Linked DNA regions of Homo sapiens. The protein of the gene in region 1 purifies or fractionates together with the protein of each later gene. This does not show direct contact. Each region holds a gene or a part of one and is shown on either strand. Other genes may lie near its edges.

Region 1 (3,982 bases):
AGAGCTCAGAATTGTCCTGACATGAAAATAATCAAGTTCTGACACTGCCAGGATAATTACTGTTTAATTTCGAGTATTTTAAAACTGAAAATATAGCCATTCCTTCCTTTATAACTCTGTATTATGGTCTATTTGTAATAATTGTAATAACAATGCTTGGTGCAGAGACTGGAAAGGGGTAGGAAAGCCAATAGTGGAGCATCCTCATGTTTCCCACAGTTTTGGACACAAAGAAGAAATTCTCTTCTCTCCTGATAAGCAGAGATAAGCTTATACTTATTTCCGGATCCCTAAGTCATCTTTTTAGCCCTGCAAATTTGCTGGTGAGCAGTTACAATAAAGCTTCCTGGCAGTTCCTTCTACCAGAGTGTTAAAGTAATCCAGGTATTTGAAGGCACGAAATGGAATGACTTAATCTCATCTCTCAGTGGTTCAGATGGATGCGAAGGTCATGGCTACAGCTACCTGGTCTAGGAGTGTGTACATCATGTAAACATCCAGGTCAAGTGACAGAGCTCAGCTAAAATCCAGAAGTCCCCTGACACCAGAGTTAGTTTTCCATGAAAGAAATGCCTATAAGAAACTGGACCAGGATAAAGCAAAGAGTAAGGGGCAGGAAGAAAGCTTATAATTGCATTACTGCAATCTTCTGCAAAATCAGACTTCTGCTTCTGTTCCACCTCTTTAAAGCTGAAAATGCCTCAAGTTTCTTACTGAGAGACATGAGAAATTCCATGAATACTAAATTCTTTGACAATTTCTAGCATGGTTTCATCCAAGGTTATGTGATGAGGCTGCATAATATAGGCTCTATATGTTTGGGTATTTTATGCGTGTATGTAACTTTGTCACTTTGATTTGCAAAATGGAAAATTCCCTGAATGCCCACAGAAAAGTATAATGTAGCATTTAGCAGGTCAACAAAATGCACTCCCTTATTCTTTGTCTCCGCCTCATTCTCCAACACTTTAGTGCACTAAGTTGTAGTGACTGAAATCATTCTTGGTGAATAATGCTGGGCCACGCTGAAAATTTGTGGCTGAGAGCTGGACCCTCGTCATCGCCACGTACTCTGTCAATGAGACAGGGTAACCCATGGTTACTGAGCTCCGATCAGTTAAGGGGCAGAGAGCCTCCGCTCCCCACTGCTCTATAAAAGAGACCCAGCAAAGGGACCCTACCAGCTTCTAGCTCTCAGTCTGCGCGAGGGTGTAGGAAGGAAAGCCCAGGACCTCCGGAGCAGAGCACAGCAGCTGCAGAGGCAAGGCCAGCATGTCGCCCAACTTCAAACTTCAGTGTCACTTCATTCTCATCTTCCTGACGGCTCTAAGAGGGGAAAGCCGGTACCTAGAGGTGAGCCACCCCTGGACTGACCCATCTCACCTTCCTTGCGTGTTAGCCCTAGGCGGCAGGCAGGCTGCCTCTGCTCGCAGCCTTTTGGGGTTCGCTGTTTCTTCCCTCTCTGCTGGATGCTGTCTTGCCCCTGGTTTCCCCTATCCTGTTCTCCCTCCTTGCCTCTGAGCATCCCAGACTGCCTGCCTGCCTTCCTCTGGCCGCTGGGGATACCCTGGCCTGATGGAGAGGGTCTAAGACCTTCCCGTCTTCTCCGGACACGGGAAAACATTACCCCTCTCTCTTTATTCGCTATGCTGAGTGGCAGGGAGGGTGCCCCGCTCCTGGTCCCCTTTTTTATCCCCAGCCCTTGAACTTTTCCGGACTGACCTATGTTTCTTGCCAGCTGAGGGAAGCGGCGGACTACGATCCTTTCCTGCTCTTCAGCGCCAACCTGAAGCGGGAGCTGGCTGGGGAGCAGCCGTACCGCCGCGCTCTGCGTGAGTCGAGGCTGCCCGGCTCGCGGGCGCCCGGGACGCGGGGAAGGTGGGACTCTGTGCGGGGGGCAGAGGGCTCGCGGACATCTCGGGGAAGGGGCTGGCCGGAACCGCCAGGGGCGCGGTCCCCTTAGCTAAGGATCGGTCCGCGGAGGCGCGCCAGGAGCGGGAGAGGGTGGCGCGCCCGGGGCGCAGGAACCCAGCGCAGCCTAGGCTGGAAGTCGGGGCGCTGGGCACTACAGAGCCCGGGAATGGGGCGCGCGGAGAGCGGCCGCCCGAGGACGGCGCTGCGGCGGCTGCAGCCCGGGACTTATTGCCCCATGCCCTCCTCCCCCAGGGTGCCTGGACATGCTGAGCCTCCAGGGCCAGTTCACCTTCACCGCCGACCGGCCGCAGCTGCACTGCGCAGCCTTCTTCATCAGCGAGCCCGAGGAGTTCATTACCATCCACTACGACCAGGTCTCCATCGACTGTCAGGGCGGCGACTTCCTGAAGGTGAGGCGCCCACGGCCAGCCAACCTAGCCGGAGGGCGGCACGGGAGGGTTGGAAAGGGCTGGGGCGCTGCACCCAGCGTGGGGCTGCTGAGCGTAGGTAGCCAGTGGCACTTCTTAGACACTTCGCTGGTGCCCGAGTCGGAGAGGCGCGTTCGAGGACCCCCACACGGCGAGAATCTCGCCCTTACCCGAAGACCTCGACCCACACACATCCAGTGGGGCTGGGGCCGGTGCCTCTGGACGCTGCCATGGTTTAAATTCCCTTCTGGGCGCTTTCGAGGCCCTAGGAACTTCTAAAGACTTGAACTCGCAGCGCGGAACTCTGACGCAATCCAGGGCCGAGGAAAAATGATTAAAACCCAACAAGCTCGAGTGCTGGGGTCCACCAAGCGGGCCGTCTTGGTTAGAAGGCCCGCCCCACACGTCTCACATCTGAGCCCGCCTCGCTCCTGCTGGTCCACGCTCGGCAGAGCCGTTCCGAGAGCACAGAGGCTGTCTTCAGTGCGCGGGTGACCCGATTTTGGAGCAGTAGGGGACTGGCTGCCGAGGGGGCATCTAGATTGAGATAGGTGGGAGGGCAGGACAAGACCCCTAAGCTCACTGCCTCCTCGATTCCAGTCGTCAGACTCCATAAGTATAACAGGGCAGCATGGGATGGCTGATGGAGCTCTACTGTCCAATTAAAATAATCATGATTAACATCTCCAAAGTAGGATTATTTTGGAACCTGTCACATGCGTTAGAAATAATTTGTAGCTGGGTTGTTGGTAATTTTGCTAATGTGGACTAGATTGGACTCGTTAAACTGGAGACCTGTGGTGATTTTGAGGGTCAAGTCAATAGACTCTGACCCTTTGTTCAACTGCAAACTTTAACAAGTGAAGGAAAAATGTTCCAGGTAGCATACCAGCCATCATTGCCTGGCTGTTGAAGCAGTTCTTGACATTTTAAAGTAATATGTGATGATATTTTTAAAAAATGAGAAAAATGGGTGTATATAGTCATTAGCAGGTAAAGTTGCTGCTCCAGTTTTTTCTTTTGCTATCTATTTTCAAGATATTTTGTTCACATTTCAATGACTAGAGGAAAGAGAGAAGCTGCACGAAACCTAAATTATGCTTTTGTGGAATTCTTCTGAAGGTGAGAGGTAGAAAATATGACCAAGGTAAAAATGTACATTGTACGTTGTTTTATTTACCAAAGTGGTTGAAATGATAAAGTATAAGGAAGTTTACTTACTTTGGAAGCTTTAAGGCTTATAAAAAATTAATTAATACTATTACTTGCAAACAACCCTCACCATCCAATATATACAAATGAAAAGGCGAGCAGGCAGAGTGTGGACTGTCGATTCTCACTTATGACTGAAGGCCCATTGCTGGATGACTTTCCCCCCCTTTTCAACTCATTTCAGACTTCAGGAGTTGATGGAAATGATAGCATCTATGTCTGTATTTTTTTCAAAGGTATTTGATGGTTGGATTCTCAAGGGGGAGAAGTTCCCCAGTTCCCAGGATCATCCTCTCCCCTCAGCTGAGCGGTACATAGATTTCTGTGAGAGTGGTCTTAGCAGGAGGAGCATCAGATCTTCCCAGAATGTGGCCATGATCTTCTTCCGAGTCCATGAACCAGGAAATGGATTCACATTAACCATAAAG
Region 2 (3,500 bases), on another chromosome or scaffold:
GGCAGCGGAGTGGGCCACGGCATCCTGGAGCACCAGCAGCTGGCGGTCTGTCTTCTGGGTGAACAGCAGCTGCAAGAGATGGGGTGAAGTTTCGTGGGAGCAGGAGAGACCCCAGAGCAACTGCCAGTTTCCACGTGCTCTGGCCCATGCCTCTAGTGCCACCCATTTCTCAGAAAGAAAAACTAAGGAGAGATGGAATGTGGTCCTTCGTGTCCAGTCTCCCAATGTAGGGCTGTGGGCAGAGACTCCTGGCTCCCTGAGGAGGGGCTGGGGGCTGGACTCCTGGGTCTGAGGGAGGTGGGGCTGGGGCCTGGACTCCTGGGTCTGAGAGAGGAGGGGCTGGGGCCTGGACTCCTGAGTCTGAGGGAGGAGGGGCTGGGGCCTGGACTCCTGGGTCTGAGGGAGGAGGGGCTAGGGCCTGGACTCCTGCGTCTGAGGGAGGAGGGGCTGGGGACTGGACTTTCAAGTCTGAGGGAGGAGGGACTGAGAGGCATACAAAATCCCCATACCTTAGTGAGGGCCGGGTTGGGCTCAGAGAAGTCCCCGCCAGGTGTTCCCTGAAGGCAATTGAGCTCGAGCAGCCGGCTCCGTTCCTACCAGAAGATATGGACAGCTACGTGTCAAAGTCAGAATGGGCTGTCCCAGCTGCTTTCCCTAATGTCAGGAGACATCTGGGGTGCAGGGAGGTGGTGGGATGCCCCAGGGGGAAGTGAGGACGGTAGGGTAGGGCAGGTGACAGGTAGCTCACCTGTGACAGGGCCTGAAGGGCCTCCTCCTTCTTCCGGCTCAACCCCCGGCTCTCGGCTGCCATCTGCTCCCCCAGTGACTTGAGCTGCTCTTCCAGGACCCGGATCCGGTGCTGCAGAGCACCCCTCTGTCCCGGTTACTCATCTGTCACGGCCCCAGCCAGCTCTCCAGGCCACCCTCCCACAGAACCACATCTGCCTGGAGGGCTGGGGTTTACTCCAGCCACTCCCAGAGACCATGGGATCGGAGTGTCCAGGGCTGGGGACCCAGCGTTCAGCTCCCTGGACCCTCTTCCCTTTTGAGGGTCCAGAAGAGATCTGGGGAAGATGAAGAGAAAGGGATGGACAGAGAGAACAGTAACCAAGACAGGCCCCAAAAGACAGAGATGTAGACAAAGATTCAGGCAAAAGAAAAGATAGAAATAGAACAGAGACAAGTAGAGACAACCCGAGACGAAGGAAAAGCCAGCGGGAGAGGAAAAAGATCCAGAAGCAGGTGGGGAAAGGAGACCCAAGAAAAGCTCTTTTTTTTTTTTTTTTTGAGATGGAGTTTTGCTGTTGTTGCCCAGGCTGGAGTGCAATGGCTCAATCTCGGCTCACCGCCACCTCCGCCTCCCGGATTCAAGCAATTCTCTGCCTCAGCCTCCCGAGTAGCTGGGATTACAGGCATGCGTCACCACCCTCAGCTAATTTTGTATTTTTAGTAGAGATGGGCTTTCTCCATGTTGGTCAGGCTGGTCTCAAACTCCCAAACTCAGGTCATCTGCCTGCCTCGGCCTCCCAAAGTGCTGGGATTACAGGAGTGAGCCACCGAGCCCGGCCGAGCTTTCTAATCCAAAACTTTGGGAAACTCTGTGTTAAATATGGTCAAACATGCCCATTTTTTCCCAAGGGTCTCACAAGTCAGACCCTTGAATGTGAGGCTCCCAGGAAGGATCTGATGAAGCATCTTTTTGGAATAGAGGCAAAGAATGTGGTGGTGAATACCAAGTTTGTTCAAATCCTGGCTGTGGCGAGGCACGGTGGCTCATGTCTGTAATCCCAGCATCTTGAAAGGCCAAGGTGGGAGGATCGCTTGAATCCAAGAGTTTAAGACCAGGTGAAACCCTGTCTCTACTAAAAATACAAAAATTATCCAGGTGTAGGGGCTCGCACCTGTGGTCCCAGCTACTCGAGAGGCTGAGGTGGGAGGATCGCTTAAGCACAGGACGTGGAGGCTGCAGTGAGCTGTGAACGTGTCACTGCACTCCAGCCTGGGTGACAGAGTGAGACGCTATCTCAAAAAATAAAAATAAAAAAATCCTGGCTCTGTCCCTTACTAAGGAAACTTGGAAAAGATTACTTAAGCACCTTGACCTTCAGCTTCTTTATTTATAACGTGAAAAAAAAAAAACGTAATAGAACTTGCCTCATAAGTTTGTTGTAAGGATTCAGTGAGGAAATGCTCATGAAATATTCAGGACCATATCTGGCACATAGTAAATGTTTCATTAGTATCAGCTCTTGTTGTTACTATTCAGAAGAACATGACAGGCAGGAAACAAGGACAGAGAAAAAGGCAGGCACAGAGCAGGGGAGACAGAGAGGAGCAGCAAGGGGGGCAGCGCTGGTCAGGCATGACTCACTCTGTGCTGCGCCATGCTGGCCTGGAGTTCCTGGACCTTGGGGTCTGGCACCTGGGGCCCAGGGCTGTCCCGATCCTCCTCCTCCTGCCGGCTCTCCCGCTCCAGTTGCTGGAACTCCAGGTCCTCATAGGCACGTTGGGCCACATCCAGTTGTTCCCTCATCTATAGGTCGGAACACAAAAAGGGTGGAGGCCTGAATCCCTAAGACCCCAGGGAGTAGTGGGCTGGGGCTGGGACTCCTGGTCAGAGGAAGAAGGTGACTGAGGACTTGGATTCCTGGGTCCTGGGGAGGAGGGGGCTAAGAATCAGAGGGCCAGCTGGGCACAGTGGCTCACGCCTGTAATCCCAGCACTTTGGGAGGCCGAGGCAGGTGGATCACCTGTCAGGAGTTCGAAACCAGCCTAGCCAAAATAGTGAAACCCCGTCTCTACTAAAATGCCAAAAATTAGCTGGGTGTGGTGGTGCGCACCTGTAGTCCCAGCTACACGGGAGGCTGAGATGGGAGAATCGCTTGAACCTGGGAGGCGGAGGTTGCAGTGAGCCGAGATCGCACCACTGCACTCCAGCCTGGGCAACGAGGCGAGACTCTGTCTCAAAAAAAACAAAAAAGAAAGAACCAGATGCCATTACCTCCTGCACACCCTGCAGAAGCCGCTCGCGTTGGTCCTCTGGCTGTGAGTCGAGCTGTCCCTGGGCCTTGCGGAGTCTCTGGCGAAGACCCTCTAGGCGATCCCGTTCCTGGCTCAGCCGCCTCTGTTCCTGAAAGAACAACAAGGTTCTCACCCTCAGCTTAAGCATAGCGGGAGAAGCAGCAGCCAGCCATATCTCAGAGCCTGCCTGGGGTGTCGGCTGTACAAAGGCAGGGACTTCATCTATGTGATTCACTCCTGTGCAGGCCTGCCTCACAGTCAGCACCAAGATTTTAAAGAAATGAATGAGGCCAGGTGTGGTGGCCCACACCTGTAATCCTAGCACTGTGGGAGGCCAAAGTGGGAAGATCTCTTGAGCCCAGGTGTTTGAGACTAGCCTGGGCAACATAGGGGGAGCCCATCTCTACAAAAAAACAAAAAAATTAGTGGAGTGTGTTAGTGCACGCCTGTAGTTCCAGCTACTCGGGAGGCTGAGGTGG

The links. Proteins that work in one complex are often made in the same cells at the same time.
Region 2: the proteins of CRHBP (region 1) and PHLDB3 purify together in Homo sapiens (affinity purification with mass spectrometry; 4 studies listed by BioGRID and IntAct, with this or other methods). This does not show direct contact.

Annotation. Positions count from the first base shown.
Region 1 is NC_000005.10:76,951,863-76,955,844, forward strand, and holds the start of CRHBP (corticotropin-releasing factor-binding protein), read left to right. Parts: upstream 1-1,182; 5' UTR 1,183-1,272; coding exon 1,273-1,353; intron 1,354-1,738; coding exon 1,739-1,832; exon of another isoform or gene 1,833-1,878; intron 1,879-2,166; coding exon 2,167-2,324; intron 2,325-3,790; coding exon 3,791-3,982. UniProt on the Homo sapiens protein: Binds CRF and inactivates it. May prevent inappropriate pituitary-adrenal stimulation in pregnancy.
Region 2 is NC_000019.10:43,494,747-43,498,246, forward strand, and holds part of PHLDB3 (pleckstrin homology-like domain family B member 3), read right to left. Parts: intron 3,131-3,500; coding exon 3,002-3,130; intron 2,534-3,001; coding exon 2,372-2,533; intron 875-2,371; coding exon 749-874; intron 594-748; coding exon 510-593; intron 70-509; coding exon 1-69.